Linked DNA regions of Homo sapiens. The protein of the gene in region 3 purifies or fractionates together with the protein of the main gene of each other region. This does not show direct contact. Each region holds a gene or a part of one and is shown on either strand. Other genes may lie near its edges. The genes, in order: ANKRD40, CACNA2D1, PRSS33 and CD109.

Evidence for each region.
Region 1: the proteins of PRSS33 (region 3) and ANKRD40 purify together in Homo sapiens (affinity purification with mass spectrometry; 2 studies listed by BioGRID and IntAct, with this or other methods). This does not show direct contact.
Region 2: the proteins of PRSS33 (region 3) and CACNA2D1 purify together in Homo sapiens (affinity purification with mass spectrometry; 2 studies listed by BioGRID and IntAct, with this or other methods). This does not show direct contact.
Region 4: the proteins of PRSS33 (region 3) and CD109 purify together in Homo sapiens (affinity purification with mass spectrometry; 2 studies listed by BioGRID and IntAct, with this or other methods). This does not show direct contact.

What each region holds. Positions count from the first base shown.
Region 1 is NC_000017.11:50,697,152-50,704,914, reverse strand, and holds part of ANKRD40 (ankyrin repeat domain-containing protein 40), read left to right. Parts: intron 1-4,198; coding exon 4,199-4,347; intron 4,348-5,021; coding exon 5,022-5,516; intron 5,517-7,763.
Region 2 is NC_000007.14:81,944,736-81,951,646, forward strand, and holds the end of CACNA2D1 (voltage-dependent calcium channel subunit alpha-2/delta-1 isoform 1 preproprotein), read right to left. Parts: intron 5,774-6,911; coding exon 5,657-5,773; 3' UTR 1,709-5,656; downstream 1-1,708. UniProt on the Homo sapiens protein: The alpha-2/delta subunit of voltage-dependent calcium channels regulates calcium current density and activation/inactivation kinetics of the calcium channel. Plays an important role in excitation-contraction coupling.
Region 3 is NC_000016.10:2,783,313-2,792,393, reverse strand, and holds PRSS33 (serine protease 33 precursor), read left to right. Parts: upstream 1-4,833; 5' UTR 4,834-4,861; exon of another isoform or gene 4,862-4,919; intron 4,920-5,789; 5' UTR 5,790-5,846; coding exon 5,847-5,892; intron 5,893-6,272; coding exon 6,273-6,305; intron 6,306-6,432; coding exon 6,433-6,595; intron 6,596-6,747; coding exon 6,748-7,019; intron 7,020-7,222; coding exon 7,223-7,392; intron 7,393-7,591; coding exon 7,592-7,750; 3' UTR 7,751-8,441; downstream 8,442-9,081. UniProt on the Homo sapiens protein: Serine protease that has amidolytic activity, cleaving its substrates before Arg residues.
Region 4 is NC_000006.12:73,824,338-73,830,025, reverse strand, and holds the end of CD109 (CD109 antigen isoform 1 preproprotein), read right to left. Parts: 3' UTR 1,713-5,688; downstream 1-1,712. UniProt on the Homo sapiens protein: Modulates negatively TGFB1 signaling in keratinocytes.

The DNA.
Region 1 (7,763 bases), on a different chromosome or scaffold from region 3:
TCTCGATCTCCTGACCTTGTGATCCGCCTGACTCTGCCTCCCAAAGTTCTGGGATTACAGGCGTGAGCCACCGTGCCCGGCCAGCTCAGATAGGGTTCTAAGTGTTTTACATGTGTTAGCTTGTTCACAACTACCTGGGGACATAGTTACTGTTCTCTCCATTTACAGATGAAGAAACTGAGGCCCAGAAACCGTAAGTTGTTTCCTCACTTTTCACAGTGCCCCTTCCCAAGGTCATAGGATTGACAGTAACTAGTGGAGCCAGAAAACAAACCTGGTATCTGATGCCAGACCTACCCTCCTAAACACAATGTCTGCCCCATAGGAGGTGTTTAGTGAAGTGATTCTGAGGTAGCCTGAAGAGGCTTCTTATAGGTTTTTTTTTTTTTTTTTTTTTTTGAGATGGAGTTTCACTCTTGTCACCCAGGCTGGAGTGCAATGCGTGATCTCAGCTCACTGCATCCTCCACCTCCTGGGTTCAAGCGATTCTCCTGCCTCATCCTCCCAAGTAACTAGGATTACAGGTGTGTGCCACCACGCCTGGCTAGTTTTTTGTATTTTTAGTAGAAATGGGGTTTCACCATGTTAGCCAAGCTGGTCTCGAACTCCTGACCTCAGGTGATCTGCCCGCCTCGGCCTCCCAAAGTGCTGGGATTATAGGCGTGAGCCACCGCGCCCGGCCTCTTGTAGATTTAATTGGAGGAACTGTCTAATAGGCCCCTCAAACTCAACATGTCCAAGATTGAATTCCAAGTCTCCCCTCATCCCTCTACCACCTCAAGCCTGCTCCTCTGAGTCCTCAGCCTCTCAGGAGTGCTCAGGCCAGAACCCTTGGCACCCTGCTTGCCTCCTGCTTGCCTCCTGTCTTTCATAGCCGACATCCAGTCAGCCAATTCTATGAGCTCCACCTTCAGATACAGTCAGAATCTGACTACTTCTCACTAACCCTACCACTACACCTCTGATACAAAGCCACCATTGTTTCTCTTGCTTGGATTATTACAATAGCCTCCTACTAGTGTCCTTGCTCCTAAGCTTATATCATACAGTCTTCTTAATTAACACAGTGGTCAGAGGGATCCTGACTTAAAACATAAGTCAGATCATTTCACTCTGCTCAAAAATGGCTCCTATCTCACTCAGTAAAAGCCTACAGGGTCCTACAATTTCTACTTCCTGTCCCCACATCTTCCCTCCTTACCTCTGTGCTAATCTCATGGGATTTGCCCTTCTGCTTACCTTTTTCCCCTGGCCTCCTTGCTTTCTCTGGAATACCAGACAGTCCTGATTCAAGATCTTTGCGTTTTGTCTTCCCACTCTCTTAAATGCTTTCCCTCCAGATATCACATGGTTTGCTTCCTCACCACCTTCAGATTTTAGTTTAGATGTCACCTTCTTGGCAAGGCTTTTCCTGGGCCCTCAATTTAAAGTTGCACAATGCCCCTTTCCAACCTCTGTCATTCCCTAATGCCTTTCCCTGCTTTACTATTGCTGTCATACTTCATCACCACCTAGCGTACTGCGTGCTTTGCTTATTTATTTGCTGATGTCTGTTTCCTCTTCTGTAAAATGGGGGGAATGTTGACAGTAGTATTACCTCATGGGTTTAGAGGATTAAATAAGTTAATACATGTAATGCCTTTAGAACAATGTCCAACACGTAAAGCATTATACCTGTATTAGCCATTGTTGTTGTTTTCTTATTATGAAGCAATATGCTAGATAATGGAATATAAGGTTACCCTCAAAAAAACGTACTCTCTTGCATTTGCAAAGCAGAATGGTGACTGCTTTCAAGTCTTAGTTGCTCAGTAATCACAATTTCAGCACCAATGAGTGATGCCCTGTTGATGAATGACACCCAGTGCCTCAGGTCTGAAATAGTTTCTGACACTAATAAGATATTTTGACTGCAAATGTAAAGCTTAAGGAGTTGAAGTTCAAAGATAGAGTAATCTATCAATTAGATTGATCACTAATCATTCCCCCACATCAGTTGTAATTCAAGTGTCATGCATAACCCTTGGTTCATGAAGAACTTGAAAATATTACCTGGCTGCAGGGGCTCTGAGTTATGGCTGCCCAGAGCCGCACAGCTCTGGACGGTAAATGATGATCACTAAGGCACAGGGCTGTGGGGGCCACGCTATGTTGACTTAACCCTGCTTTACATGGGTGGTAGTTTAGCAAGTTGGTTTGTCCCAGAGTCTCTCAGACCCACTGGTAGTAAATTACCTCCTTTACTCTCAAGCTTGCCACGAACAAGTGATCTACTACTAGCAAGTGAGCATTTTATTTCCAAAAGGGAGCATATTTTTCTCATCATGCTTCATTCATTTTTGAGGGCTCACTTATCATTATAATTGTTCACTTTTTAAGCCTGTGCCACAGACATCCACACACAAACACACTCAAGGTTCCAGTTTGCCCAGAATCAAGGGTAGATTGGATCCTTCTACTTCAAGCAAGGTCCACTTTATCCTTAGTTTACTCATTTGGTACTTTTTTTTTTTTTGAGATGGAGTCTTGCTGTGTTGCCCAGGCTGAAGTGCAGTGGCACAATCTTGGCTCGCTGCAACCTCCACCTCCTGGGTTCAAGCAATTCTCCTGCCTCAGCCTCCCCAGTAGCTGGGATTACAGACATGCACCATCACACTAATTTTTGTATTTTTAGTAGAGATGGGGTTTCACCCTATTGGGCAGGCTGGTCTCAAACTCCCGACCTAAAGTGATCCACCTGCCTTGGCCTCCCTAAGTGCTGGGATTACAGGTGTGAGCCACCGTGCCTGGCCCATTCAGTAAATATTAATTAATACATGCCAAGCAAACACTTCCTTGCCTTCAGGGAGCTTGATCAAGACTCTTCTCTCCCAAACTTAACGAGACTCTTATTTTTCCCAAATTAGCAATAATTTTGTCATTGCATCATGGAATACACCTTAAAGGAACCTGGATAATCTAATTCTAATGAACCATAATGTAGAATGTCACTCTGAGACATCAATGGAATTGCTCCCAGCCAGCCAGACATGCTAACTTTCTGTAAGTTACTAATGTTAAGCCCAGGGCAAATCAGCTTTTTCCTGGAATCATATAAACTTTCCAAATAATTATACTTCCCAGGTTAGTGAACTAACCTTCAATATTGAACATTTGTTCTAATCTTCATTTCTGTATTTGGCTATAAGAGCTCTGAAGATATGTATCTCAGTTCAGTTAGAGAGTTGGTGAAAGAAGACCTTTCAAAACACAGGCGAAAAGTATTTTCCTTCCATAATATACAGTCAGCTCTGGCACCTAGGGATGGATTTAGTTGCTCTGAATCTTTCATTTCTGTTAAGATGGAGTTTTTGCTGGCATGCTAATTATGTTTCTGTACAGTATTAAAATAGTAGCCCTTCAGAGTGTGCAGAATTGCTTCCTCTGTGTACAATATTGAGTGATTAGTTTTACTTAAATGAGTCTGATATGTTAGAAGAACCTGTTCGTGAAGAATTTTGGTTGTTGATGTATATTTTTTAAGTACCTCAGGAATTAAAGTATGTGTGCAGTGCCTTACATTTACGCAGATGAGGATATGTTTGTAGCCTTCTGGAGAGAACTAGAGAAGCCAACTTTTTAAAAATGGAAATTTGGAAATCCTTTGTGTGTGTGTTAAGGAAAGAAAAGTAAGAAGGAAAAAGAAAGTGAGCAACTGGGATTCAGGCAAGAATATCTGCTGTCATAATAATAATTTAAGTGACAGAGCAAGCTGCTGATAGGAGATGGTTATTATCCTGATAATATTGAATCTTCAGGTGGCATATGAAGTGAGTTTCCATAGTCCCTGAAAAGGAATATAGCAATAGAAAAATATGTTTCAGAGACTGAGATGATCTAATGAGCGATACTGATAGAGTATATTCCACGGTATCATTGGAGTTAGCCAGCCAGTGAGCTTACCTTCTGGAGGCTATTGAAATTAAAACTCCTAGGTTAAGTTAGTTTTTCTCAGGAGCCAGAAATGAAATTTAAAAACAAAATTTAAGCATATTAAATATTTTGCTCATCGGCTTTGTGAAAAGTTGAGATTACCAGCCCGGTTACCTGGTTCTAGCTGAACTCTAACAGGCTTGTTTATACATTATTTACTAATGTTTAGAATCTGAAATCCAAAATCACTTCTCCTCTTTTTCAATCATTATTTTCTTTGGTACAGGACTTGTTTACACTGGGCATGTAAACGAAACCATGGTCAGGTGGTCTCTTACCTGTTAAAATCAGGAGCTGACAAAGAAATTCTTACCACAAAAGGAGAAATGCCAGTCCAGTTAACATCAAGGAGAGAAATCAGGAAGATTATGGGAGGTGAGTCTGTGTTTGGGGGAACTTTTGATTTCCTCAGACTCATTGAAGACTTGTGGTATTATTGGCTACGTTCTTAATGCTGGTCAAACAACTGCTCTATTTCTTTCTTTTTTTTTTTTTTTCCGAGACGGAGTTTAGCTCTTGTTGCCCAGGCTGGAGTGCAGTGGCGTGATCTCGGCTCACCACAACCTCTGCCTCCCAGGTTCAAGTGATTCTCCTGCCTCAGCCTCCCAAGTAGCTAGGATTACAGGCATGTGCCACCACGTCTCGCTAATTTTGTATTTTTAGTAGAGACGGGGTTTCACCATGTTGGTCAGGCTGGTCTCAAACTCCCGACCTCAGGTGATCCGCCAGCCTCAGCCTCCCAAAGTGCTGGGATTACAGGCATGAGGCACCGCTCCCGGCAACTGTTCTATTTCTAAAAGCAAATTACTGTGCCAAGATAGTAATTCCAGATTGTTTCTGGGGAGGTCAGCATTGTAAGGTTTTATTTTTTTATTTGTAAAATTTAAGATAATGATAAAAATGGTAATCATAAACCTAATGAAGTATTCTTTTTTCTTCTGACCTGACACTGACCAATGTCACATACCAAAAGACACCACTTTCAAAAGACACCTTGTTTTGATAATTTTGAAAGGACTGTGTAAATGTTCTGTTTTCTTCTTTTTAAGTGGAAGAAGAAGATGATGATGATGATGATGATGACAACCTCCCCCAGCTGAAGAAGGAGTCAGAACTGCCCTTTGTTCCCAACTATTTGGCCAACCCAGCCTTCCCTTTTATCTATACACCCACAGCAGAGGATTCAGCCCAGATGCAGAATGGGGGCCCCTCCACACCCCCTGCATCACCCCCTGCAGATGGCTCACCTCCATTGCTTCCCCCTGGGGAACCTCCCCTGTTAGGGACCTTTCCCCGGGACCACACCTCTTTGGCACTAGTTCAGAATGGTGATGTGTCGGCCCCCTCTGCCATACTCAGAACACCAGAAAGCACAAAACCGGGTCCTGTTTGTCAGCCACCAGTGAGTCAGAGCCGCTCCCTGTTTTCTTCTGTCCCGTCCAAGCCACCAATGTCTCTGGAGCCTCAAAATGGGACGTATGCAGGACCAGCGCCAGCATTCCAGCCATTTTTCTTCACTGGAGCATTTCCATTTAATATGCAAGGTAACCCCTCATCAGCAAACAGCCTCTGCAACAGGGGAGTTGGTGTCCAGAGGGGTGGGATTTAATGAGGTATTCTGGGTATAATTGCAAACTTACAGAAACGTTACATGACTAACATAAGGAACTCCCTTTACTCAAATTCACAAATTGTTTACCTTTTGCCCTTTTACCCTGATACCCTTCAGTATTCTTTCCATTATATCTTTCCTAAGAACAAGGATATTCTCTCTTTTTTTTATTGAGACGTAGCTTCGCCCTGTCACCCAGGCTGGAGTACAGTGGTGTGATCTTGGCTCACTGCAACCTCCGCCTCCCAGGTTCAAGTGATTCTTCTGCCTCAGCCTCCCAAGTAGCTGAGATTACAGGAGCATGCCACCACGCCTGGCTAATTTTTTTTTTTTTTTTTTTTTTTTGTATTTTTAGTAGAGATGGGGTTTCACCATGTTGGCCAGGCTGGTCTCAAACTCCTGACCTTAAGTGATCTGCCTGCCTCAGCCTCCCAAAGTGCTGAGATTATAGGTGTGAATCACCGCACCCAGCTGGATATTCTCTTATATAACTACAGTACAAATGACCAAATTTGAGAAATGTAATCTTGAGCTAATGCTGTTCTGTAATCCATAGACCATGTTTAAATTTTGTCAGTTGTCTCAAACATTGCCTTTTGTATTCCCTCATCTACTATACGTACTGTCTGTACTATTACAGAAATAGTACTATCTGTACTATTGATATCTATCTGGACTATCTGTACTCCTCTGCCCCCTGCATCCTGCCCAGGATCATATGTTGCATGTAGTTATCACGTTGTTTTAGTTTCCTTTAATCTGGAATCTTTACCCTTTATCATTTTTGATCTTGATCTTTTTGAAGAGTCCAGGCCAATTATTTTTGTGGGATATGATTTTCTATCATTCTTTCTCTACTTATTAGTTGGTATTTTACTGTAAAGAAGGGCTTTCCCTTCTCCTTCATTCATATCAGTATTGACTCATATATTCTTATTTTATTCAGTGGGTTATAATCTGTTACTATCATTTTTTAATTATTCAAATTATCCCAGATTTGGCCAGTGGGAGCCCCTTGAAGCTAGTTCTTATGTCCCTTGCATGTGTCTTCATTGTTCTTGGAGCACTGCCTTACTTTCTGGGGCAGCAAGATGTTCCGGGCTTATAGCATAACTTTTCCTGCCCCAACCCTGGAATCAGTCATTTCTCCAAGAAGCCCTGGTTCTTTTTGGTGGAGAATGGTATTTAGGGCACACAGCAAACTTGCCTCCCACTTGGGCCCACCGAGAATGGTATTCAGACACCAGGATGTGGTCACTAGGTGTCCTCATTGCTACAGGTATATCATTTCTTCTAGGCCCGTTGAGAGGACATAGCCAGGAAAGATATCAATATTTCTCTATGTATAACTTTTTAAAAATATTAAAAACCACAAGTTCATCCTGATTCTTCCAAATCCAGTCAAATGCCATAGGGTGTAGCTAGTCTTACTTTTCCTTTTTTCCTGGAAGTAACTCTCTCACTTCCTGTTTTTGAGGAGTTACTACTGTAGGTGCTAACAGTGACCTGGGGTGCTACAAGGGATTCATATACAGGGAACAAAGCAGAACTGCCAAATGTACAGGGTGCTTGACTCAGGCTGTCTTGGCAGCCAGGTTCAGAATAAAGGAGCAGATTGCTTAGATCCCAGACCTATGAATAATAAGCCAAGACCCCTTCCTCATGAAGGTGTGCTACATTCAAATCAAGTTATACTTTAGCTTTTATTAGTAGCTTGTCATTTGGCTCTTTTACTGTCTTTTTTGCAAGGAGTTTCATATTTTACAGATACCTTTAGGTCCATAATTGTTAAATCTTTTTAGGGTAACTCACATCCTGCCCATGCCTTCTTTCCAACCTTCTTCCCTCTTCCCCTGTTCATGTATAGTTTGATACCCAAACCTGTTCTTAAGACTTTGCCTCCTTAGCTCCAATGGCAGAAGTAAATTATCCTTCTACATAGCTGGAATGGTTTCCCCTGCCTTGCTCTTACTTTGTGAACCATAGCCTTAGAAGTACGGACGACAGTGCAGGAAACTGCCCCAGCAGAGGCAGAGCTGGGCCTGAGCAAACCCTGCTGGCTGCACTTGGTTTTCCCACCAAACAGGTCTGTTAATCATGCACAGACCTTTGGCATGATTAAGTATAACCATCTTCTGGAAAAGATCTTAAACAACATGGGCTGTGCTGTGCCAGAACT
Region 2 (6,911 bases), on a different chromosome or scaffold from region 3:
AATGTGGCACATTTGACAACTGGCATATGCTGAGTGAGTTTGTTCATCTCTTCTTATCGCAATAGCTATGAACCTACTTTAATGTGACATACTTACTAAATTGGGCAAGTTATATTCATTTTCAAATTATGGTAGTGATATTAAATTTTCTTCTCATACATTTTTAAACAGTCCACTTATTAAATATAAAACAGCATTTTTGAGTTGTATAGCAATTTATAGGAAAGTATATAGGTGCTCTGGTGGATAACTCCACTTTGAGATACAAAAACATTTAGGAATTGAGAAATATCCAAGAACTTGAATTTATTAGGACCTCATACCAATAATTAAAAATTTTCAGCAGTAGTGAAATCTGGTGGTCAGAGGTAATGTGTCTTAAAGATCTAAAATTCTAAGAAGACCTACTTGAATATAACGCCAAGGAGAAAAGACTACCAATATATGTCTGTGGATGTACAAATAAATAATTCTAGGTTTATAAATCTAGGAAGTAATAGGGTTAATAGGCAGGGGTGGATGTTTGATTGTTCAGTTTGTTTTAGATAGAGGTGTTCCAAATGACTTTAGACCAGAGGGAAAGAAGCCTGCTGAGAAGGGGTACGGAATATGCTTGAGAAAGAAGAACTGATGAAGCAAGGTCCCAAGAGAAGAGGCAGGAGTGGGATCAAAATGATTGATAGAGGAAATGAAGGTCTCTGGGGAAAGAAAATTGAAGAGATAAATTGGTATAGAATGAATCCAGATGTTCAAAAAACAAATGTAATCTACGTTACACTTTCGTGTAGTTTTTTTTTTTTTTTTTCCTTTCCTGTTAAAATGTCTTTATCAGACATAGGGGTCAGATTTTCCAGTAATCACCATCACGGGTACCCACATACTACATTCCACCCATACGTAGGTATTTTTCAAATTCTCCAGAGGAAAAAAAGATGGTAGGCCTACGTTATACTAGATTCCATATAACATCAGGCTCATCAGTTTATCACGTGAGCATAGGAAGTCAGGTTGTAAGCTGGTATAAGTGTAAAAGGAATCTAATAGGGCTTTTAGGGAAAATTCTTTATACTTCATTGCCTCAGCTGCTGTTCAAATGTTAGATGCATAGAAGAAAAGCACATTTCAGATACTCTAACTTGTTTCTTTCTTTTAACCTACTTTTCTGAGGTCTTTAAAGAAACATGGAAACATTAGGGAACTTTTTTTTATAAAAGAAGTCCAAAGTCTGATGAAGTACATTCCTAAGTGCCTTGATGGAGAAGGCATGTTAGAAGGTTAGACTTAAGTAAAGGCATCGCGAGTGAATTGACAGTCATCCCTCTGTGCGTGGGGGGGATCAGTTTCAGGATGCCCACGTGTATCAAAATCAATGCATACCCAAGTCAAGTCTGGAAAGTGGCCCCGCAGAATCTGAGTATACAGAAAGTAGGCACCTGGTATATGTGGGTTTTCCATCTTGCAAATACTGTATTTTCAATCTGCATTTGGTTGAAAAAAATCCACATATAAGTATATCCATGTGGTTCAAACATATGTTGTTCAAGGATTGACTGTATTTGTGTGAGTTGAGGTTTGTAATTGTAAAAGCACTATTTAATCCCAACTTTTATTTCCACAATCCAGAATTCTCTCTTAAAATTATTTATGACAGAGCCATCTGTCTCTTCCAACTGGATCTTTTAAAAAGCAGAAAACCCAAACCGCGTGGTGACTTTAAATGATAAACTTTTATTCTGAATATACTGTTTTTGCACAAGATTTAACACAACATTTTCTGGGATTATAAATATTTTATAACAGTATTATACAAATTTTTACAAAATGTTTTTATCAGGCTAGGTAATTTTCACAAAAGTGTCAAGAGAACAAAATAAAGGGGAGAAAAGATCTATTGTTCACAAAAGCCAGTTGGCCTTTTGCATGAATGCACACCATTTTAATAAAAGTATTCCTAAAAGCATGATCCGACACTCATACAACACAACAAAAAAGACAGCTTTACTAGGTCACATTATAAACTCAACTGGCATCTACACAAGACAGTATCCCATTAGTTTCAGTGGAATTTGAGATAACTGTGTGAACTAGAAATAAGGTAGATGAAGAGTTGTCTAATTCTTCAAAAATCTGGAATTTTTTTCAACACTCAAAACATTATATTGGTTTGCTCTTTACAGAAATGTACTGTGAATATTGACATTCTGCTATGGGAAACAATACAAGTTTAGATGAAAAAATATTTAAAATTTTGGGCAAGTGAAATAGTTATTTCATTCTATTCTTTAAAAAAAGTAACAACATCCATTTTGTTTCACTAGGTCAGACTATACCATTAAACATTTGAACGTCTAACATGATCAATGGAATAGATTCAGAGTTTTAAATGAAGACAAAATCTTAAGCTTTGTTGGTCACAGACAAAGATTTAAATGAGATTTAAAATACAAGAGAGCATCAAATAAGCAAGTAACACTTGGGTTGCAAAGGTCACTTAAAAGGGATACTGCCTATTTGAACCCGATAAGTCCAGTTTTAAAGTTAATAAAAGGAATATTATAGGAAAACTTACAAATGGCAGGAACACTGTTTTTTGTTTTTTTTTTTCCCAAGTTAAGCAGTAACACCTCAAGCATTAGAAACATGAAAAAAGATCATACTAAAATCTTATAGGCCCAGGACCTAAAAATCTCTTCAATCAAACTTGCTAACTATGTCATGTTAAAAACCTGTTACAAATATGGACCACGGTTGGTGTTTGGCAGTAATGCTGGTTGTTTAAATGAGGAAAATAAAAAGAAATCATTAATGCAAAATTCTTTCTTGTTACTCAACACCATTGCCAAGCTCACTTGAACTCTGTTTTAGTGACTAACTACACTAAGCCACATGAGTATAACAAAAATTAGTTAAAGCAGTGTATAAACTTTTTTATTGATCTGTTGTACTGTTCAGTCGTTGGAAATCAATATTAATAACAGGCTATAATTTAAGTTCTTGTCAATGTAACTCAGAAAAATACTAAATGTAATGTAATAATTTGATGGGATGAGTGTTACTGTCTTAAAAAATATGCTAAAAGCATGAAGACTAATATTAGTCATGGGAACAACTTTTATTCAGCTTGTTCTTACCCAATTTGTAATTGCATTTATGGTTGTCATAATATATAACTTTATAGCAGAAAATAAAGGTTTATAGCAAAACTCATGCATATAAATATATTTTGATGGCAACAGAAATTAAATAGGATCCTGCCAAGAGATGCCAAGTTTAACCGCGATTAATACAATAACAATGTAATTGATGAAAACATATACTCGACATTAGCCATGAAAATATATTTAATAGATTTTGAACATAATTTTAAGGTAGTTTGTTGTATGCTGGAAGCAATTCAATTGTTTTAATGTGCATTGTTTATATACACAAACTAACAATTTTATATTTTGATACCCCCTTCCCAACACTATCATGATTTAAGATAGTCTAGCAAAAATTGAACAATAACTTTTAAATATTTAACAAACAACATGATTAAAACATTGTTACTAGAGTGAGAAGTTTTTTTCCCCACATATATTTTAAATCACTTTGGTGTTTTCTAAAATGTCAATACCAGTTATGAATGACACTACAAAATCACAACAATGCATTAGAAATGGTAACTGATGTCAACTCTTAGAACAATAGTTGGCAAAGTGATTCCATTTCCCCCCACCTTTTTATTGAAAAAAAAAATCTTGAAATGTACACAAATGGTACCTAAGGTATATTGGTGGTGGGAGGGAATTACAAATGTATGCAAAGCTAAAAACAAAACAAATGTTATCTTTTAAGCTACGTTAAATTATTGGTTATATCTTTGATATGTGGAGCATATTAAAGCATGCTGGATAATGTTAATAACTTTGACTTAAAAAGGATATGTAAGAAAATTTCCAGCATATACACATACCAGTAATTGGCATGTTCCAAAAAAAGAAAAACTGCATTTTATCATAAAAAATATCTACATACGTTCAGCCTTCAGTAAAATTATTAACTATTCTTAGAATTACACATTCATAGTTTTTACCTTTTCTTCAAATACTGTTTGCTCCAGAAAATAATTTTTAAAAGCATAAATAATCTGCTACCATATTAGTCTATAATGAAATATCTGATTTACTACACTAACCATTTTCACCAATGAGGCTGTATAAAAAACAACTTTTATTATTCACAATCAAGTATTCATGTGCATACATAGAGATTCAAGGTTTCCTATTTGTTCAGATTATTGTAAAACCCTTATCAACTTGCATGGAAATTTTGGCCAAACGATCATACCATTTAAAATGGAAGGGCAAAAGCAGCAGTAGCAGGAACTTTTGGATTGTATGTGCTACTATTGAAACGAACAAAGAGGAAACCTAGGATGAATCTTCATTGAGAACATATATGTACTTTTCAAAAAATAAATGTGTCAAATCTGATTTATGTACTTAAAATATCTGTACATAGGTTATCAGGCGAAAGCATGAATCTGTATAAAATTCATTAATTCTCATTTCACCATTTATCTAACCCCAATCATTCAGCATTTACATTGCACAGTATATTCAGAGTAGTTTAACAACATTTTAAAGATGACTTAAGTGCATTTACACTGCAAGGTTCAGATTCTTACATAACAATATCACTCAGTTAACTTTTCAATGACTACACTCTACAGTAAGAGAAAAAACAACTGAAAAGTTAAAATAGCAGCAGCATCATGCAAAATACCCTTGGTAAACCAAAGTTCATTTATCACAAGAAAAACATTTCCCCCTCCCCCCTGACAAGCTTTTCTTAGAGCATTTTTAAATATCTGGCTAGCACTACATAACTGTACTGTGAACAAAAGGAACATTACATCAAAGCATTTATTAAGGGCTTGCTTACATTTATGAGGAAATATGTCACATATTCTAATTTCTCCCTCAAGCACCTTTAGTTTAATAATTTCTTAGTTACTATTTTCAAACCATCAATTCATTACCCCATCAAAATTGAATTGGTCATCAATTGTGTTTTATTTTTGGCAAAGAAGCCGTTCTTCATAAGGCATTTTATTCATGGCAAATTTTTCATAGAAAATTAGCCATTATTTATATTTCAACAATTTAGACCAATGTTAATTCTCTCTTTCTCTATATATTTCAATAATTGCTACTTAAAGCAGGAATTAACTTTTCACAGAAGAAAAAGTGAAGGCAAAAATAATTTCTTTCCCCTTAGAGATTTTCTTAGTAAAATTGCAGCAAGTCAAAATTCCAGGTCAATATCAAGACATTTCTTATGGTTCATTAACAATTGTATGGGGAACCCTTTCACATGTAATCACCAACAATGCAACAACAAACTCCCAAATTTTCCAATAGAGGACACGTATAGGATTTTGCTTTGATGTTACACATAGATGATGCAGCATTCACACACGTTTAAGGATCTGACACCCTGACATGCAGCCAGTGGGTGCCTTAGGAGTCTGCGCCTTAGTGTTATGCCATGGAACAGGCCCAGCTAATGTTTGTCTGATTTTATAGCTGACCCTACGTTACTGTAATTGAGGGCAGGGCTCATGTTTTGGCAGGGTCTGGAGTTTAACTATGCAGATTTGGTTTTTAGAAGGTCATAACAGGCGGTGTGTGCTGCCAGATACCAGCCAAAGTAGTAGAAACTGGATTCCAATGATATACCACAGGGAGGGATTTAATCCAGAAACACCACCACAGTCAGTATAATCCTCCTGTTGTTAAAAAAAAAAGAAAAGAACAGAAAAAGAAAAATCTAAAAATCTTGAAAAATATTTAGTAACACATCTTTCAGAGTAATCCATATTTAGTTCACTTTCTGAACTTACCTTATAAAACTGCTGTAATTGAAATCCAAAGAAATTACTTTCTCCTAGATTTTATCATTGAGGAATTTCCCTAGCATCATTTGACAAATGCTTTAAATTTTTAGTTGTAGCTTTTGATGATTATGAAAGAAAATAATAAATGCTGTTTGAATAATATACTAATTTTAAAGAAAAAACTTTCACAGTATCAAAAATCCTATATATTTATAAATGCAAGAAATAAATGTAAAATTTAATAGTAGGTTTTATAATTCCCAAGAATTATGATTTTAGCAACTATGCTCCATATGGTAAAGTTGGGGACTGGTAAAATAAATACATTTCCATTTCCCATATTTCTTATACAATTTATAAGGCTCAACATAGAGTGCAATCATAGCATCTGGACCTTCATCAAGAATTAAAGTAAAATGGGAATAATGTATTTGAACCATTGTTTATGTTGGTTCAAATACATTATTTGGACACATATAGGATTTTGCTTTGCAAATATATATCCAAAATAGAGAGCTAAGCTAGGAAGAGATTTGTCTTGAGACAACCAAGAAATATTAGAATGAATATACTCCCATTAACTCCCCACAGTCTAGTGGTAGCTCATTTAGTTCCCTCTTAATGCAAAAGTATTATTCATCTTTTATTCCTAGGTTCTATATTTGATAACATTGTCCACATCCTTTAATTCCTTTTAACATAGTGAATTTCATTTTTAAAAACCTCCTTATTATTTTTAAATTTTATTTCAATAGATTTTGGGGAACAGGTGGTTTTGGTTACATGGATAATTCTTTAGTGGTGATTTCTGAGATTTTGGTGCACCTGTCACCCAAGCAATGTACAATGCACCGAATGTATGTAGTACTTTATCCCTTACTCCCATTCCTCCCAAGTCCCCAAAGTCCATTATATCATTCTTATGCCTCTGCATCCTTATAGCTTAGCTCCCACTTAGAAGTTAGAACATACAATATTTGGTTTTCCATTCATGAGTTACTTCCCTTAGAAAAATGGTCTCCAACTCCAT
Region 3 (9,081 bases):
GAAATTCTTTCATATGCTACAACGCGGATGGATCTTGAGGACCTTATGCTAAGTGAAATAAGCTAGTTACAGAACAAAAAATACTGCAAAATTCCACTTATATGAGGTATTTAAAGTAACGAACTCATCAAAGCAGCAAGTAAAATGGTGGTTGCCAGGAGCTGGGGGAGAGGGACACACAGAGCTATTGTTCAAGGAAGAGAGTTTCAGTCAAGCAAGATGAAAATGCTCTAGAGATCTCTTTACGGCAATCTGCATATAGTTGACAATACTATACCATCCACTTAAAAATTAAGAGGGTATATTTGTTTATTTTGTGTGTGTGTGTTTTTGTTTTTTTTTTTTTTGAGACGGAGTCTCACTCTGTCACCCAGGCTGAAGTGCATTGGTGCGATCTCGGCTCACTGCAACCTCTGCCTCCCCAGTTCAAGCGATTCTCTTGCCTCAGCCTCCCAAGTAGCTGGGATTACAGGCGCACGCCACCACACCTGGCTAATTTTTTGTATTTTTAGTACAGACAGGGTTTCGCCATGTTGGCCAGGCTGATCTTGAACTCCTGACCTCAGGTGATCCACCTTCCTCAGCCTCCCAAAGTGCTGGGATTGCAGGTGTGAGCCACCGCACCCGGCCAAGATGGTATATTTGTATTGTGTGTTTTTTACCACTAAAAAAAAAAGAAAAAAAAAGAGTGGTGCTGAAGGGGAGGTGGGTCTACCTGAGGGTCTGTGCCTCAGTTTCTCAACATAGGAGCTGAGACAGGGGTTGGGTCTGGGGGCTCTTTCCCTCCTCTCCCAAAGATCCGATGTCCAATATTTAACCAGTTGCAGACCCTCCCCTGAAAAAAGCCCATTTCGCCGTGAGAATCCATTTCTTTAACCCAAGCCCTCAGGTGTCCTCAGATCTCCAACCTCCCCCTTCACCCCAAATTGCAACAGGCAGAGACCCAGCTCCCGCTGAACAGGCAGAGACCCAGCTCCCGCTGAACAGGCAGAGATCCAGCTCCCGCTGAACAGGGAGAGACACAGCTCCCGCTGAAGAGGCAGAGACCCAGCTCCCACTGAACAGGGAGTCCATCCTCCTAGCTGGCTTCCCTCCCAGTGCTTGGCCAAGTCCCCCGGGATGGCTGCATATTCTGAGGGTCCATTGTCACTCTCATACTGGTCCAGGTCTCCAGCCGCACCCAACCATGACAGAGAGGGACACTGCCCACCTGGCCTTGTCCCCACTATGCCCTCTAAGGGCAAGCCGACCTGGTATAGCAGAAGATTCTGGAGGCTCAGGGAGGGTGGGAGTGTACTTCTTTTATTCTTGCAGGACTTTCCTAGTATTTGGCAAGTGCTGGTCACTGTGCCAAGCTCTGCATGGTCAACCCCATTAATCTTTACCACAACCTACCAGGTGGATTTTGCAGATGAGGAAAGCAGGGTAGGTGAGGCTTCAACAGCTCTCCCAAGGACTCAGAGCTGGAGACCGGGGCGCCAAAGCCCAGTTGCAGAGAGCGGGTCTTGAGGGTGGTCCTAAAACGGGGACAGCAGAGGTCAGGCCTGAAGACCACCCTCTGTCTACGTTGCATCCAGATGCTGGGTCTGTGTCCCCACCAGCCCCCTCCTCTGTGTCCCTCAGCCTCATCCCCAGTCTGCTGCCCTGCTCAGCCTTGGCCACTTATTCCCAAATCCTTAGTGCCAGCTCTGTGCTGGGCACTGTCCTGCCCACTGGAGAATGTTATGCACTGAAATGTTTGTGTCCCCTCCAAAATTCATATGTCAAAGCCTTACTCACTGTTGTGACTGTATTTGCCCTTATGGAAGTAATTAAGGTTAAATGAGATCACAAGAGTAGGACCCTGCTGGGCACAGTGGCTCACGCCTATAATCCCGGCACTTTGGGAGGCCAAGGCGGGTGGATCGCCTGAGGTCAGGAGTTCAAGACCAGCCTGACCAACATGGAGAAACCTTGTCTCTACTAAAAGTACAAAATTAGCTGGGCGTGGTGGCGCATGCCTGTAATCCCAGCTACTCGGGAGGCTGAGGCAGAAGAATCACTTGAACCCGGGAGGCGGAGGTTGCGGTGAGCCGAGATTGTGCCACTGCACTCCAGCCTGGGCAACAAGACCAAAACCCTGTCTTAAAAAAAAAAAAAAAAAAAGAGTAGGACCCTAATCCAATAGAATTCGTGTCCTTATGAGACGGGATTTGTTCCCTTGACTGTGACCCCCTTCGTGGGCAGGAACTGGAGTGGCTCGTTTCACTCAGCTGTTGTTCGTGGATGGCTAAATATTAACAGTTCAGTGAAGGGTCAGGGTGACAGCATCCTGCACCTGCCCTTTTTGACACCCGAGTTCTTGTTCAGTGTCCAGGAAGAACCAGGTCACATGAGCTATTTGGAAGGTAGTGCATGCGGAGGATTTCAATGGGTGATAAAAGTGGCTGTCAGCAGGATGGGGAATTGATGCGGAAGGAAGGTGATCTTTCCCTGAAGTCGCACCATCTGAAGTTAGCCGCATCTATCCACAGCTAAAGCTCAGCCGCATGTATCCCCAAGGCTCAGCAGCTTGTATCCCTGCTGGTCAGCTGCTTGTGTTGCTCTTTTCTTCCTTTTCTTCTGCCATCTGGTCTGGTTTTTACCGGTACAGGTTAGGGGGCGGGGTGGGCCAAGAAGGCAATCATTTGGGCAGAAAAACAGGGTCAGATGTTTTCACTTAGGGCTGGGGCTCCAGGCTTGAAGGTGGGAGCCCAGCCGTTCTGTGTCACTCATAAGAAGTGACAAGAGTGCAACCTGTCTCTCTCCCTCCCCTCATGCACACAGAGGCCACGGAAGCACACAGCAAGATGCAGGCCACCCAACAAGCCAAGAAAAGTGGCCTTAGAATGAAAACTATGTTACTGGCACCTTGATCTTGGAATTCCCAGGCTCTAGAATCATGAGCAATACATTTATGTTGTTTAAGCCCCCACGGCCGGGCGCAGTGGTTCACGCCTGTAATCCCAGCACTTTGGGAGGCCGAGGCGGGCGGACCATGAGGTCAAGAGATCAAGACCATCCTGGCCAACAAGGTGAAACCGCGTCTCCACTAAAAATACAAAAAAAAAAAAAAAATTAGCCGGGTGTGATGGCGCGCACCTGTAAATCCCTGCTACTCAGGAGGCTGAGGCAGGAGAATAGCTTGAACCCGGGAGGTGGAGGTTGCAGTGAGCCGAGATCACGCCACCGCACTCCAGCCTGGAGACAGAGCAAGACTCTGTCTCAGAAAAAAAAAAAGAAAGCCCCTTCGGCTGTGGTTTTTGTTTATGGCAGCCCAAGCGGACTCCTACAGGGACACAGACCCAGACCCTGATGCTGGAGGGGAGACAAGAGGATGTAAATCAAACCTCCTCAAGTCCCTGTCAAAGGACAACTATGGGCTGGCCTCGGTGGCACATGCCTATAACCCCAGCACTTTGGGAGACTACAGCAAGAGGATCTCTTGAGCCCAGGAGTTCGAGAACAAGTTGGGCATCATTGCAAGACCCCATCTCTGGAAAAAAAAATTGCTAGGTGCTGTGGCATGCACCTGTGGTCCCAACTACTTGGGAAGCTGAGGTGGCAGGATCACTTGAGCCCAGAGGTCAAGGACGCAGGGAGTTGTGATTGTACCACTGCACTCCAGCCTGGGTGACAGAGCAAGACCCTGTCTCTCTCTCCCTTTTTATTTTTTTTTGAGACAGAATCTCACTGCGTCGCCCAGGCTGGAGTGCAGTGGCATAATCTCGGCTCACTGCAACTTCCACCTCCCGGGTTCAAGCAATTCCTGTGCCTCAGCCTCCCGAGTAGCTGAGATTGCAGGCGCCCACCATCAGGCCTGGCTAATTTTTGTATTTTTAGTAGAGACGAGGTTTCACCATGTTGGCCAGGCTCGTCTCAAACCCCTGACCTCAAATGAGCCACCCATCTCGGCTTCCCAAAATGCAGGGATTACAGGCATGAGCCACCATGCTTGGCCAAGACCCTGTCTCTTTAAAAAAAAAAAGAAAGAAAAACAAAAAAAAAAAAAAGGAAAAAAGTACAACTATGGCAGGGCTGCAAAGGAGGCAGGAGGAGGTGGCAGAGCAGAAGGCTGAGGGATAAGAGGAGTTCACTATGCAGAGAGGGACTTGAGAGACTTCTAGGCAGCGAACACTGTGTATGAGCCCAAGAGGGAACTACAGGGCCCTGGACCATCCGGGCCCCGGTCCTCCACGGGCCTCGAGAGAAGGGGAGTTCCTGTCCCCTGACCCCAGCATCTTGCTCTGTCTCGGCCACCCCAAACCAAAGACTGCACTGGTCCCCAAGGTCAAGTCTCCCCCTGCCTCTGGTCAAGTAAGGAGTGCCACCAACTTTGAACCAGTCCCTTTCCACCTCCAGCTGCTCCAGACCCCGGATCTGGAAGGGGGCTGGCCATGCTGGGGTCTCTGGGTGGAGCTGTCTGGCCAGGACTTCCGTCTGAGATGGGATTTCTGGACAGAACAATGGAGCGCAGAAGCTCCAGCAACGTGTGCTCTGCAGGGAGCCCAGGTCAGGTTTGGAGAGGAGTTGCCCCGGATCCTGCAGAGCTTCCCCACCTGACTGCCACCCCTCCCAGCACCTACCCGCACCACTGCTCTCCGCCAGCCCCCACTTCTAGTACCTTGGCGCAAGGCAGGCTTCCTTTGAGAAACCCATTGACCCTTTCCTGCCACCTCTGAAGCTCTGCTCAAAGCATCTTTGTTTGAGGCTGGTCCGGTAAAGCCACAGCCCCGCCCCGGCCCTGTTCATTACTCCTTGGCTGAGCCTCGCGCTCTCCTGGCACTTTAAGCCCCCAGGCCCTCCCTCAACCCCAGTCAGCAGAAGGCGCCAGGCTGTGAGGGTGAGAGCAAGCCAGGGGCTGTGGGGGCTGCAGGGGCAGCCAGTGGGTGAGGATGAGGGTGAGGACGAGGAGGGGTGAAGGATGGGGGAGGGGGTGAGGATGAGGGAAGTGGTGAAGATGAGGGAGGGGAGTGAGGAGGAAGGGGGTGAGGATAGAGGAGGGGGTGAGGATGAGGGAGGGGGTGACGATGGGGGGGTGAAGGATGGAGGAGGGGTGATGAGAGAGGAGTGAGGATGAGGGAGGGGGTGAAGGATGAGGGAGGGGGTGAGGATGAGACAGGGGTGAGGATGAGGGAGGGGGTGAGGATGAGGGAGGGGAGTGAGGAGGAGGGGGCTGAGGATGGAGGAGGGGGTGAGGATAGAGGAGGGGTGAGGATGAGGGAGGGGTGAGGATGAGAGAGGGGTGAGGATGAGAGGTGAGGATGAGGGAGGGGGTGAGGATGAGGGAGGGGAGTGAGGAGGAGCAGGGGTGACGATGGAGGACGGGGTGAGGATAGAGGAGGAGGTGAGGATGAGGGAGGGGGTGAGGATGAGAGAGGGATGAGGATGAGGGAAGGGGTGAGGATAAGGGAGGGGAGTGAGGAGGAGGGGGGTGAGGATGGAGGAGGGAGTGAGGATGAGGGAGGGGGTGAGGATGAGGGAGGGGGTGAGGATGGGGGAGGGGGATGAGGGAGGGAGTGAGGATGACCGAGGGGGGTTAGGCTCCAGGGCTTCTGTCGAGACCAAGGATGCCCAAATATCTGGGTGGTGGGTGCTGCATACCTGGGCCCTGGGCAGAACGAAGGGTATACAGCCTGGGCCACCAGGATAAGTCCAGAACCCACCAGGAGCTGAGGACAGACAGAAGGACCACGGAGGGGGTGACGGGCTGGTGTGAGGATTGGTGCCCCTGGGCCAGGACTCTCCTCTCTTCTCCCTGCTGGCTCCAGACCAGAGTCCAAGCCCTAGGCAGTGCCACCCTTACCCAGCCCAGCCTTGAAGACAGAATGAGAGGGGTTTCCTGTCTCCAGGTCCTGCTCCTTCTGGTGCTGGGTGAGTGGGGACAGGGACTGGGGGTGAGGGCCGCAGACACCTTGGCTCCCAGTTCTCCCATCTCACTGCTCCCTGGGCCGGGCTCCCTGGAGCACTCTTGGGCTTTCTAATCTTGATTCCAAGGGCTCAATCCTCTCTGCCACTGACCTTGACCTCACCACACCTCGATGTGCTTGTCGGTGTCATGCTCATACGCCCTTGCCCCCTGCACCTTCACAGTGCTCTGGGGAGGGTTAAATAAGATAACAGACGGCACGAAAGCCTGGCGCAATGTCAGGGCAACATTGTTTCACCCTCCTTCCTCATCTCTGGCCTCCCCTCCAACTCCGTTATTTGACACCAAATCTATAATCTGGTCCCTTCCCTGCTTCCTCCTCCAGGAGCTGCTGGGACTCAGGGAAGGAAGTCTGCAGGTGAGGAAGCCTCGGAGTCCACCCGAGTCAGCCCCTCCTGGACCTCGGCCCCGTGTCTCCCCACCAACACCTGCCTCCCAGGCCCCAGGTCCTCAGCCAACCCTCACCGCCCCTGGTCCTTTTCTAGCCTGCGGGCAGCCCCGCATGTCCAGTCGGATCGTTGGGGGCCGGGATGGCCGGGACGGAGAGTGGCCGTGGCAGGCGAGCATCCAGCATCGTGGGGCACACGTGTGCGGGGGGTCGCTCATCGCCCCCCAGTGGGTGCTGACAGCGGCGCACTGCTTCCCCAGGTCAGCGCTCACCGAGGGCCCAGGCGGGGTGTGCAAGGAAGGCAAGGCCCGCAGAGGACCGGGCGTGGCCTGGCAGAGGCGTTGGGGTCGAGGCGGGCTGGAGGGGGTCGAGGACCCGGTGCTGGAAGTAGTCCCCCGCTCCTGTCCTGCAGGAGGGCACTGCCAGCTGAGTACCGCGTGCGCCTGGGGGCGCTGCGTCTGGGCTCCACCTCGCCCCGCACGCTCTCGGTGCCCGTGCGACGGGTGCTGCTGCCCCCGGACTACTCCGAGGACGGGGCCCGCGGCGACCTGGCACTGCTGCAGCTGCGTCGCCCGGTGCCCCTGAGCGCTCGCGTCCAACCCGTCTGCCTGCCCGTGCCCGGCGCCCGCCCGCCGCCCGGCACACCATGCCGGGTCACCGGCTGGGGCAGCCTCCGCCCAGGAGGTAAGGCAGGAGGGCGGGGCTCCGAGGCATCCGGGAGCCCCCACGTCCTCCTCCATCTGACTGGAAATCCCAGCCCCTCACTGCCCCAATCCAGGACCCAGCGCGGCTTCTAGGGAACAAAACCTCCTCTCACTCAGAGCTCAGCTTCTCCCACTGGCCCCCGCTCCACGCCTTCCTCTCAGAGGTCCCTCCTCTTCCCCCAGTGCCCCTCCCAGAGTGGCGACCGCTACAAGGAGTAAGGGTGCCGCTGCTGGACTCGCGCACCTGCGACGGCCTCTACCACGTGGGCGCGGACGTGCCCCAGGCTGAGCGCATTGTGCTGCCTGGGAGTCTGTGTGCCGGCTACCCCCAGGGCCACAAGGACGCCTGCCAGGTGTGCACCCAGCCTCCCCAGCCTCCGGAGTCCCCTCCCTGTGCCCAGCACCCTCCCTCCCTGAACTCCAGGACCCAGGACATCCCAACTCAGGCTCAGGATCCTGGCCTCCAACCTAGAGGCACCACGCCAGGGGTCTGGAACCCTGAGAACTGAAGTCCTGGGAGGGCTGGGACTTAGGCTCCTCTTTCTCCTGCAGGGTGATTCTGGGGGACCTCTGACCTGCCTGCAGTCTGGGAGCTGGGTCCTGGTGGGCGTGGTGAGCTGGGGCAAGGGTTGTGCCCTGCCCAACCGTCCAGGGGTCTACACCAGTGTGGCCACATATAGCCCCTGGATTCAGGCTCGCGTCAGCTTCTAATGCTAGCCGGTGAGGCTGACCTGGAGCCAGCTGCTGGGGTCCCTCAGCCTCCTGGTTCATCCAGGCACCTGCCTATACCCCACATCCCTTCTGCCTCGAGGCCAAGATGCCTAAAAAAGCTAAAGGCCACCCCACCCCCCACCCACCACCTCCTGCCTCCTCTCCTCTTTGGGGATCACCAGCTCTGACTCCACCAACCCTCATCCAGGAATCTGCCATGAGTCCCAGGGAGTCACACTCCCCACTCCCTTCCTGGCTTGTATTTACTTTTCTTGGCCCTGGCCAGGGCTGGGCGCAAGGCACGCAGTGATGGGCAAACCAATTGCTGCCCATCTGGCCTGTGTGCCCATCTTTTTCTGGAGAAAGTCAGATTCACAGCATGACAGAGATTTGACACCAGGGAGATCCTCCATAGCTGGCTTTGAGGACACGGGGACCACAGCCATGAGCGGCCTCTAAGAGCTGAGAGACAGCCGGCAGGGAATCGGAACCCTCAGACCCACAGCCGCAAGGCACTGGATTCTGGCAGCACCCTGAAGGAGCTGGGAAGTAAGTTCTTCCCCAGCCTCCAGATAAGAGCCCCGCCGGCCAATCCCTTCATTTCAACCTAAAGAGACCCTAAGCAGAGAACCTAGCTGAGCCACTCCTGACCTACAAAGTTGTGACTTAATAAATGTGTGCTTTAAGCTGCTCCATTTGTGCTGACTTGTTATACAGCAATAAAAACTAATATAGATTTTGCCCCACTGTGATGAAGGTGTCCCAGTGGGAAAGGTGGGCTGGCCAGCGCGGCCACCTCCCCACATACTGCAAGAGGCTGGGCACTTGGTATCAGGCCCTCGGCCCAGGAGGGGTCAGGAGTCCCGGGGCAGGCCCAGATTCTGTTCTCATTGTGTCTGGCCACCATTCACTCCCAGGGTGAGCCTGGGGCCCAGGCCACCCTACTGACACCTGCACCCAGACGCCAACAGCTAGCCCACGTGCAGGTCCTTGCCCACCCTTGGGGTCCCCTTCCAGCCTGGTGCCTGGCATCCTGTCCCCTCTCTGCCATGTCCTTGTCTCCAGAGCCAGGACCACCCGTTCCAATAGATAGAGGTCAGTTTCCACAGCTGCAGAAGGAAAAGAAACAAAACCTGGAAAATTCAAAACCTACTCTGGAGCTGACAGGGGCTATCAGCAGAAGGGAAGGGAAGATAAGGGAAGGTAAACTTCAAAGGCGCAGCCCCTTTAGGTCCAGGCACAGGCCTGAGCATCGCCTCCCTCCCCTTTCCTCCTGGGGAGCCAGGGAAGTGGGCTGTACTAGATGGTCACGGCTGGGCCAGGCCAGGTGG
Region 4 (5,688 bases), on a different chromosome or scaffold from region 3:
AGGGCCTACCCACCACCACAACTGGTTTAAACAAAGTAGATGTTTTCTCACTTGCAGAAGAAATCCAAAGGTAGGTGGTTCAGGGTGGCTCCACAGTCATTAGGGACCCCGGCTCCTTCAAGATCTCCAACCTCCAGTCCTAAGGGTTTGGCCTTCCCACTAAAGGACCAAAAAACTGATAGAGCTTCAGTCAGTCATCCACAGTCCAGGCAGCAGGATGAAGAAAAAGCAAAAAAAAAAAAAAGGGCAAGGCACCTACTCCCTTCCTTTTAGGAATACTTCTCACAAGTATCACTAATATCTTTAGCCTATATCCCACTGACCAGAACCTGGTCCAGGACTCTACCTTGCTGCAAAGTCATCTGGGAAATGTAGCTCCTCCTGAGACTAAGGAGGAGGAAGAGAACGGGTTGAATAGGAGGAAGAAAGTAGCAGTCTCTGCTACACTGAACATCAACAAAGTGTGCCAGATAGGAGAGAAAGAACAAAGCAAATCCCAGGGGACAGCTCTTGGGATCTTTTGTGAGAGCACAGAACAGTCCTGGAAGCCCCCAGGAATCACTGGGAAGGACTGTCGGCGGGGCTGGAGGCCCTGCATCATCACTTAGATGGCATGGATGATGCTATTTCCAGGATCCCATTTCATACCCAGGCCAGTGAGGCCTGGAAAACTCATTAAATAATCCAGTGGTTCTCAGATTAAAATAATCATCAGAATCACCTATTTGCTTAACAATTCAGATCCAGAACCTGATTCTAGATATGCTGAATTAGGATTTCTTAAAGTAAGGCCAGAAATGTTTGTCAAACCAAGCTCTTAAGAGAGTCTAATGTCTATCAAGTTTGGAAACTACCATTATAGATATTTTCAAAAAATAATTACTTCATCTTTTCCCAGTCTCCAAGTGAAGTTTCCTAGACTTGGGATATAAACTTATTTGTTAATCTAAGTATCTGTCCAGTGATTCCAACGACTCTATTCTTATATAAGAGTGTATTAACTTAATCATATTAAACAATTGGCATCATGAGGTGATCTAGAAGGGCCCAGCATCACTGAGCTAGAGGGTTTTTCAACCTCAGAACTTTTCATATTTTGGGTCAAATAATTCTTTGTTGTAAGGAGCTGTCTGGCGCATTGTAGGATGTCTAGCAGCATCCCTGACCTCCATTCCCTAGATGACAACAGCACTACCTCCAATTATGTTAACCAAAAAATGTACAGACATTGGCAAATGGTTGCTGAAGGCAAAATCACTTCCAGTTGAGAACCCCCGATTGTGAAATGCTATCTTTAGTATTTCACAGAAGCCCAGAAAATTCATGGCAACAGAAATATTAAATAACACTGGGTGGGAATTAAGAAAATGTACATGAAATCTTATGTTCTGGCTGAGACAATCTGTGCCTCCATTTTCCTGTGTGTATAAAAACTATGTGTTCTATATACTTCTATATAATTTCCAGAGATTAAGTGAGTGCTCACCTCACATTAATTTTTTTAATTTGTGTATTACTTACCTCTCCACTGAGCGGGGAGGTAAAGGAGGCTGGTAATCAAATTTCTTCAACTTCATTATGTTGCTACCTTGCAACACAATAATCCCTACTCTAAGCTAGCCTCAAATATCCTGTTTCTCATAAATAAGCTTAAATAAGGGAGGTGTGCTATAGACATGCTTTATGCTAAAATAAAAAGAACACATAATAAATAGATGAGAATTTAAGCTTTTATTAATAAATCATGATTTTCTATTGAATACATAATAAAGTACAATTAACAATAACATAACATTACAACATTAAAAATTAAAACTTTCAGAATCACCTTGATCAATATATAAAGCTTTAGTTCCTTATTTCAACAGTGTTCTTCTCATATGCAAAACAGCTTCCCAAAATAAGAGATTCGTGAATGAAATTTTATAAAGCTTCCTGTGTACCAAAGAGATTGACTCCACATCAACTGTCCCCTACTGAAAATCCAAACCATACAGGCTTGAAGGACCAGAACTGAGCCACATTCTATTAAAGTTATCAAAGATAAAATCTTAAAGATCTACAAATGGAACATGGAACTACCTTCTACCACCAATTCAATACACTGGGCAAACGTGGTAAATCTTGGCCTCAAGACAACATAAGATAGAATGATTCTTAAATATGTAGCAACAGATATATCAATATTATCCCTATTACAGAGACACATGTATACCAATTTATAACTGTTCTTTGCAGTAAGAAACTCAGAAATCATCTAGGAAATATCTATTTTCCTATGTTACAACTGAAATGAAAATGACAACATATTTTGTAAAATGATGCAATGTGGTATTGTCTTTTGATGAGACATGAAAACACAACTCACTGGCTAGAAATAGTTGTAAAACAAGCCTACTCTCACTGATATATACTTACTTTAAAAGTTACACTTACTTCTTAGTTTTCTGAAGAAAGAAGGATAATGGTCCTCTATTCAAAGTAGTAATAAAAATAATTGCACCTCAAATTACTCCCAGTGTAACATAAGATATTTAATATTAACATAAATATCATTTGCATAGATGATAGAAAAATTCTAATTTCTTAAAAGTGCTATGCCTTACTGGAATTTGAAGACAAAAAAAAAAGTGAGGAATACACTCTTCTGCCTGTCCGACAGAAGCCTCTACCGAGAACGTAAAAGGTTCTGAAACTCATCTATGAATGAGTCCACTTACTATAAGTGTCTTAAATTTACAATGCGCAAAAAACCAATGCACCCAAGAATACATCATGGCACCTTGCCCCATGGTAACCACTTGGCAGACTCAAATAATAACTACCCTCATAGGGAGAAATCTTGCCAAGGGAGAATTTACAACATATTTTTAGAAAGAAATGAGTATTCAATCATTCAATAAAGCAAATCAGAAAAAGTAAGGTTGTGAAAAGAACTCCAGATTATATGCCAGCAGGTTAATAAAATAATTCTTTTTTAAAAAATGACAAAGAAAAATCATAGTTCCAATTTTTTACTTAATGTCTTGAGTCTGCCAGACATGTCAAATGAAATAATTGAATTATGTAAAAATAAAAATAGTTGGTATTATATTGACAGACTACTTATAAATATGTTTAGCATAAATAGAAATTAAAGCTAAATATGTCTTTTTCTAAAAAAAAAAAAAAAATTATACCTAGGCTCAAAAGAATAGGAGCAGGGAGAGTTATGCTATCTACAATTCTGAATATTTCCACGTGCAGGATACAGTATTACATATGTAAGTAACATCTCCTAGGTAACAGAAATATATCTGGATTCTACATAAGCAAAACACTCCTCAGATTATAATATATAATCCAAAATACTAAACCAAAGATACTATTTTTACAATGTTTTGAAAAACAAAGTACAATAGCACAACACAATAAAAGGAAGCATTTCATTGACCAGACATATTTTAATGGGCTTGAATTTCTTTTTTAAAACTATAACTAAATGTAATAAGATGGTGGAACCAAATATAAAAATGTTATTCTGTCCTAGAATTGTTTGGCTACTAGGTTTTCCCAACATTCAGTCTCTGGAAGCATCGGCCAGTCAGAAAGAGAGGTAAGATATGCTGGTGTTTTACTAAGGTTCCCAGTGAGTGGAAAAGAAGGGGGACTTTAGTTCATACCAGTAAATGACATTGACAGTATTCTAAATGGAAGAGCTTCAGCATAAGGAATCTTAATGGTAAAATGAGTTTTTTAATATTATTACTCATAGCATGTGAAGAAAATAATTTATACTAGTAATTATTACTACTACATATACTCCTTTTCTCCTTATGCCTGTGGTATTTTAATCACTTTTAGTCCAAGCCCACTGCTTGTAGCAGAGCAAGTTCTCTAAGGGAAGTATGAAGGAAGAAGTGGCCGGGACATCTGCACAGCCCCATGCACCAGGAGACAGTGCTAGCTAACCCTTTATGTTCCTTCTCATTGTTGTCCTCTTCATTTTTAATAAACTTACAATAAAAAGAGATGAGTTACAAGGTGACTTTTTTGTTTTTTGTTTTTTGAGACAGAATCTCACTCTGTCCCCCAGGCTGGAGTGCAGTGGCGTGATCTCGGCTCACTGCAACCTCTGTCTCTCAGGTTCAAGTGATTCTCCTGCCTCAGCCTCCCGAGTAGGTGGGACTACAGGTGCATGCCACCACGCCTGGCTAAATTTTGTATTTTTAGTAGGGACGGGGTTTCACCATATTGGCCAGGCTGGTCTCAAACTCCTAACCTTGTGATTCACCCGCCTCAGCCTCCCAGAGTGCTGGGATTACAGGCATGAGCCACTGCGCCTGGCCTACGAGGTGACCTTTAACTTGAAAACATGGAGTTCTTCACCAAAAAAGTATTCAAATGATAGTTTTTAAACAAGGAAATATGGTCTAAAAAAGATACAACCTGTCTTCCAATGGCCTTTCCATTCTAGTGTTTCCTAATATATTACACTAGAAGTTAACTATAAATTATATACTTTAAAATATAAAGTATTGATTGTCAGTATAAGGTTCCCAGGCCAGGAAAGAGGAGGGGAAAGTCCTTTGCCAAGACCCTCCCCCAATTTCTTTGTAAGATGATTTCACCTTTAAAGAACTCCCAGAGAGTAAAGGGCAAAAACACGTTTACAAGGAGGCCCCAACATTACAAGTGCCTGTTTTAGAACAGATTGTGTCAGAGGTGTAAGAGATCTAGAAACTTTTCCCCACTTAAGAAAAAAAGGCAAGAAAATTAAGTATTTGATACTTAACTGCCCTCTTCATAGACCACTGTCTGGGGATCTATTTTCTATGTACAGGTTTGCCAGCTTTAAAATACTGAATGTCAGTTATTCCTACTTTGGTATCCAAAATATCCATAAGCAATATATGAGCATCCATTCCACTATAATTTCTGAAAATTCACTAAAATAAGAGCATTTTTAAAAATTAACTTTAAAAGATACATTTGCATACTTTATTTTTGATGGATTTATTTTTAAATAGCTAAAAACATAAAGCAAATTCTTTGGAGCCCATGGCAATTACTTTTTCCCCTGTCCACTTGAGTGAAATGCCATAGAGCTAAAGAGAAAAACTAAACCATTTCTTAGATTGAATAAAAGATCATTAATTGTTGACACATATCTAAATCATTTCAGTATATTTAGAAGGCAAAGAAGAAAGGGAGAAGGAAAGAAAAGAGAGAAGAAAAGAAAAAAGGGGGATTCATCTTTAAAATTTCCATCCAGATAAATTATATTACCCTTCGGAATACAGGGCAATTAAAGATTGAGGTGCTCAGGATTCGGGGATCTTAAAAGTTCACAGCAAGCATCAGATGTCACTAGACAACTGGCAGTCTAATGCTCACACCCCTGAACTAGAAGAGGTTCCACAGGATCCCTGGCCAATGCCAGGGATCTTTAGGTCAGCAGTCATGTCAAGATGCTCTGATTCTCCACAAACCCAGCTTCTTTCCCAAACTGCAGGGAGGTCGGTCTGCAGTGACTTACCTAGTATTTTGTTGTATCCCTGGCTCACAGTGTCTCCCTGGTCTAGGATCTTCGAATCGAAATCCCATGAAGCACATATTGCAGTGCTCTCTGACTCTCACCCCTGAAATAGAGCTGGTGTGGGGCTGAGGATGTGGGAAGGAGACAGCACACCCAGCACCCCCCAGGGC